Linked DNA regions of Homo sapiens: region 1 is linked to region 2. A link means that fine-mapping ties the variant in region 2 to the expression of a gene that starts in the linked region. Tissue or cell type: testis. Region 2 holds a variant in brackets; the other region holds the start of a gene. All regions are shown on one strand. Distances are from middle to middle.

Evidence for each region. PIP is the estimated chance that this variant, and not a neighbour inherited with it, causes the effect. A credible set is the group of variants that fine-mapping cannot tell apart.
Region 1: PLUT starts here. The variant in region 2 is the best candidate, but not a certain one, in a credible set for the expression of PLUT in testis (GTEx, PIP 0.83).

What each region holds. Positions count from the first base shown.
Region 1 is chr13:27,915,698-27,918,381 of GRCh38, forward strand. It overlaps PLUT (PDX1 associated lncRNA, upregulator of transcription), which reads right to left and starts at 1,594. Exons shown (of 5, transcript NR_047484.2): 1 at 1,453-1,594.
Region 2 is chr13:27,856,973-27,859,656 of GRCh38, forward strand. All of the region lies in intron 1 of PLUT (PDX1 associated lncRNA, upregulator of transcription), which reads right to left. Among named protein-coding and RNA genes, the nearest start is that of PLUT, 59 kb to the right of the region's middle. The variant G/A (reference allele first, on the strand shown) is at 1,493.

The sequences.
Region 1 (2,684 bases), 59 kb after region 2:
CAGCAGGAACCTGGAGGTAAGGAGAGGCTCCTAGGAGAACAAAGGATTAGTCATAGGAAATGGTGGTGGGAGGAGGAGGTGGAAGGCAAAGAAAAGGAACTGTGTGGAAGCAAGGAGCTGGTTACCTAGGACTAAGCTCAGAAGGGAAGCAGCAGGGATTTCTGGAGACTGCACATCTGGAAGGTAGAACCAGAGATGAGACAACCAAAGGGGTGAGTCCAGAGCTGTAGGGGGTGAGCCACCGGGAACACCAGGAGTGGGGAGCAACAGCTGACCTCAGATCCTTTGGAGCCTGAAAGTCCTTTCATACTTTTCCTTTCATCAGCAGAGTGAACTGAGGACCACGGAAGGATTAAACCAAAAGTGGAAAGAGCTCGTGCCTGGGGGCCCCACTCCCAGGGAGGAAGCGTTGAGCAGTGGCTGGAGGAAGCAGCAGACAGTTCTGGGGCACACGGAGTCCCCCCTCCTGCCCTTCTACTCCTCTTACACCAGAGAGAGCTAACAAGGTAGGGAATAAGACAATTACCCAATTCAATTCGGTTTTTAAGCTGCTTTTATCTTTACAGTTCAGGGATCACTGAATCATCTGGAAAATAATTTCAGCTCTCTGCTTATTTTCACTAGATTGCTTAGCCCTAGGAATATTGGAAAACCCTTCATTCAAAGTCTGAGGTCCTTTCCTCTCTCCAATCCCCACAACCCAAGCTGGGTTTCCCTGGCCCCTCTCAGACCTGGATACCAAATTCTGGGTATTTATTTATATATATATATATATTTTTAATTTTTTGAGACGGAGCCTCGCTCTGTCTCCCAGGCTGGAGGGCAGTGGCGCGATCTCGGATCACTGCAAGCTCCGCCTCCTGGGTTCACGCCATTCTCCTTCCTCAGCCTCCCAAGTAGCTGGAACTACAGGCGCCCGCCACCACGCCCGGCTAAATTTTTTTGTAGGTTTAGTAGAGACGGGGTTTCATCATGTTAGCCAGGATGGTCTCGATCTCCTGACCTCATGATCCGCCTGTCTCAGCCTCCCAAAGTGCTGGGATTACAGGCGTGAGCCACCGCCCTCGGCCAATTCTGGGTATTCATAAACCAGCAGGAGGGAAACATTGATTCGACTTAGGAAAATGAAAACCTGCCTGCATTAGTGCTCATTGAAGGAAATGCTAATGAACTAAAGTGCAATCAATTATAGAAGTATTCTCATTCCACACATCACATCGTTTGCTTTACAGAATTTTCCAACTCAAGAAACAATTTTTATTTTCAACAGAGATTTAATTATAAAATGAATATAAATTCCACGTGCATTCATGATGTATACCTTGGAGTTAAGTGGGATTCATCTGTTTTTTTCATTTATAATGGGATGCAGTGGCTTAAAAATCCTATCACCAAGCCAAATTCAGCCCTTAGCATGCCTCTGAAACCACCGAGGAAGACTTAGCCACTTACCAAGAACAAGGTAACCTGTGTTCTCCCGGGTGTAAACCGCGTCTCTGTGAAGGGAAAGGGGGAAGAGGGCCGGCAAGGACCTCCAGTATCAGCGAGGACTATCAGGACGTCCAGCTAATAAACGACTTTTTCACTGTCCACACTTTAATTGGTTTACAGCCTTTTTTGTTTATTTATCCATAAGAGCTGCTGTTAAATGGCTCGGGAAGGTGCTCGCCTAATGGCTCGGTATCGCTGCCGGGCCTGTTGTGGGCGAGGCGGCTTGGAGGGGGCGCAGGCGTCAGCGGGGATTCAGAGCGGAAACGCATTTCGCCTGTAATGGACTCGGCGATTTTACGATACCAGGAGCTAGATCCACGGGGAAGTACAACACACGACCTTACTAAGCGGAGGGTTCCGCTTGATGCGTTTTTTATACGGCTGTACGTGATAAAATTCCAGATAACTTTGTTTCATCTAATAATAATAATAACAATAATAAATGGTTGTTTGACCTTTGCTCCCTGGGTCCCTTCTATAGGTCGCAGGCAGCAGAAAATGCTAATTGTGAAAGTGAGAACGCGCCTCCATGGAATACCCCCGGCGATCCCCTCCTCCTCCCCCACAGCCGCGGGTACCCGGGTTTTTGCCGGCGACCGCAACCGGCGGATTTGCTTTCTGCTGAGAGCCTCTTTTCTTTCTGCAGGGCCGAGCAAAAATATTAAATGGAAGCAAATGAAGCATCGAAATGGAGACCAATTTACAGAAATGTGCAATTAGTTGAGAAGTGCAAAGTAAACACTCCGGGGGTGGCAGGCGAGGCAGGGAGCAGGGGAGGGAGAGTGGGGCGCAGACTGAGTCCAGAGTGGGTGTAGGGGTGCCCAGGGAGGAGGGGAAGGGGGAGGAAAAGGAGGGGGAGGGGAAAAGTGGCCGATCTTTGTCCTGAGCGGAGCTTGCCGTCCGCTCATAACCGCGTCGCCAAGTCAACCCTCGGCGACTCGGCAGATTATCTCCAAGGGTCAACACGCCGCGGCCAGGCAACCCCCTCCAGCCTGCCCTCCTGATCGATGTGGTCACTCGCGGCCAGGGTGATAGGGTAGAGTTCTCCGCGGCCGCAGACAATGGACTCATTGACGCGGGCGCACAGAGATTAGGTGCCCGGGCCCCACGGCCTTTCACTCTCTGCCCCCACCAAAACTGCAGGTGGCACTTTTCCCTGAAGAAATCACCGAAACTCTCCCCGCCCGCCGCCG
Region 2 (2,684 bases):
CACGCCTGTAATCCCAGCACTTTGGGAGGCCAAGGTGGGTGGATCACGAGATCAGGAGTTCAAGACCAGCCTGGCCAAGACGGTGAAACTCCGTCTCTACTAAAAATACAAAAATTAGCCAGGCACGGTGGCAGGCGCCTGTAATCCCAGCTACTAGGGAGGCTAAGGCAGGAGAATCGCTTGAACCCAGGGGACGAAGGTTGCAGTGAGCTGAGATTGTGCCACTGCATTCCAGTCTGGGTGACAGAGTGAGACTCCGTCTCAAAAACTAAAATAAAATAAAAAATGCCTGTCCTCACCTAGGTCCATGGTCACAGGCTGGCGGGGTTAGGGGGTGCGGTTGAAGGAGCCTGGCTGGGGGCGGGGGGGGTGGAGCTTGCCAGGGACCACGCCCTTCCCCCTTATTATTATTTAAGAGGACCACGCCCTTCCCTTCCCAGCACTTCCTTTCCCAGCTCTTCTCTGGCCCCATCCTGTATCATTGCCAACTCATAGACACCCTCCCTGGCTTTGATTGGAGCACCCTGGTGAGGCCCAGGCTTGGCTGAGCAGCCTGCTGGCTCCCCCACCAGCTGCACCTGTCTGTAGGAGCACGCTGGTAGCATACGGAGCAGCTGCTTGCTCTCCTGCTGCCTGCAGATTCCCCGGCTGTGTCTTGTTACTTCCCTGCAACTCCTCAGTGCCCAGGCAGATGTCTGGCTCGTGATCGGTTCCCGAGCTTTGCTGCTGGAAGCCTCCTCAATGGCTAGGGTCCTAGGAGCCTCAGCTTCTATAACTGGCTCCAAGTAATCAGGCCAGAAAATGGATCCAGCCATTGGTTTTCCAGAGAGAGGACTGAGAGGATGCCCACCGGGTTCTGATGCACAGTAGGAAATGAGATGAATGCACGGTACTCTCCTGTACTAATCTGATGGGGGACTGGTTTGAGTGATAAGTGGATTTTGCAGCAGGGACACAACATGCTTTAGTGCACCTTCTCGTTCTTCCCTAGACCCAGGAGAAAGAGAAAAATGGGAATGAAAGGCAAAGAGGGACGTAAAGAGAGATTATTTCTCTCTACCAGAGTTCCACAACTGCTGGCCAGGGAGGAGGGTCAGGTCAGAGAAGGCACTGCCCTGCCATCCACCCCGGCTGTGTGTACCTGTTGCCTCAGGCTGTCCTACAGAGAGGCAATGGCCCTCTCTTTCTCCTGAGTAAAAGGCTCAGCTGGTGCGGGCTGACTGTTTTCGGGCATTGTCAGGAAAGCAGGAGTCTGGCAGCTTAAACCTGGTTGGTATGACCAGACACATTGAGGGATGGAGCCTTTTCAAAGCCTGTTGCTCAAAGCCAGCCACCTACTCACACACATTTCAAACATAGCCCCGGGCCCTAATTCAAACTGCAGCATTTCACTCAGTTCTCAGCATCAGATAAGGCCAACAGGCTTCCACTCCTTCAGAAGACACCCAGGGGTCCAAGGTAAATCTCGTTCCAAAGTGATTTTTGCCTGGAA[G/A]GGCCTAAGCCCCACCCAGGATGGGGACGACCCTCACTCTGGGTTAGGACATGGGCTCTTTGCACCTCACCTGACTGCTAACCCCTCAGGTTCTTCCTCAGGGCTGGCAATGGCCCTGGGATGGACCTGGATTCGGCTCTGACTCTTACTACTTGCATGATCACGGGCAGTTACATTACCAGAGGCAGATTCAGCACCACCCAGCCCACCAGAGCAAAACCCATAGGCCTTCCAAAGTGCTGTAATCCTAGCACTTTGGAAGGCCAAAATGGGAGGATCACTTGAGGCCAGGAGTTTGAGACTAGCCTGGAAAATATAGAAAGATCCCATCTCTGAAAAAAAAAAAAAACAAACAAACAAAAGAAAAAAGTTATCTGGGCTTGTAGTAAAAAGTAGAAAAAAGTTAGCTTTGCCTGTAGTCTCAGCTACTTGGGAGGCTGAGGTGGGAGGACTGCTTGAGCCCGGGAGGCAAAAGTTGTGGTGAGCTGAGACCGCATCACTGCATGCCAGCCCAAATGACAGAGCAAGACTCTTTCTCAAAACAAAACAAAACCTATAGGCCTTGTCCATCATTGGCAATTAGTTAGGAAATGTAAGTGCATCCACTATGCAAGAAACTGATCACATTGGTCACCTCCTGGATGGGGATCTAGATGGATAGCCAATAGAGGCAGAAAGAAAAATTTTCCATTCTTTGCCCTTTTGAATTTGAACTATATGAATATATTCTCTATCCACTAAAAACGTTTAAAGTTTTTAAGAAGTCAAATAACATCAATAGGATTCAGTGATTGACAGGGGCAGGCAGGGAGGGGACGGACAGACAGATGTGAAGGATGAGTCTGTGTTGCTAGGCTGGGTGACTGGATTCACCAAAATACAGACTACAGGAAGAAGAGGGTTTGGGGGAAGGAAAATACATTCAACCTTGGGTTGTTGAGGTAGAAATGCCAGAAATAGTTAAATGGAGATTTCAGCAAGAAATTGAAGATGTGTCAAGTTCTCAAGAGATGCTGTGGTATTGAAAATGTAGATTTGGGGTCATCATTTCAGAAGGTGCATTTGAAGGCACAGAATGGATGATAGACTCATCTTTCAGATGAGAAGGACAGAAACTGGCCAGGTGCACTGGCTCCCACCTGTAATCCCAGTACTTTGGGAGGCTGAGGTGGGAGGATCCCTTGAGGCTGGG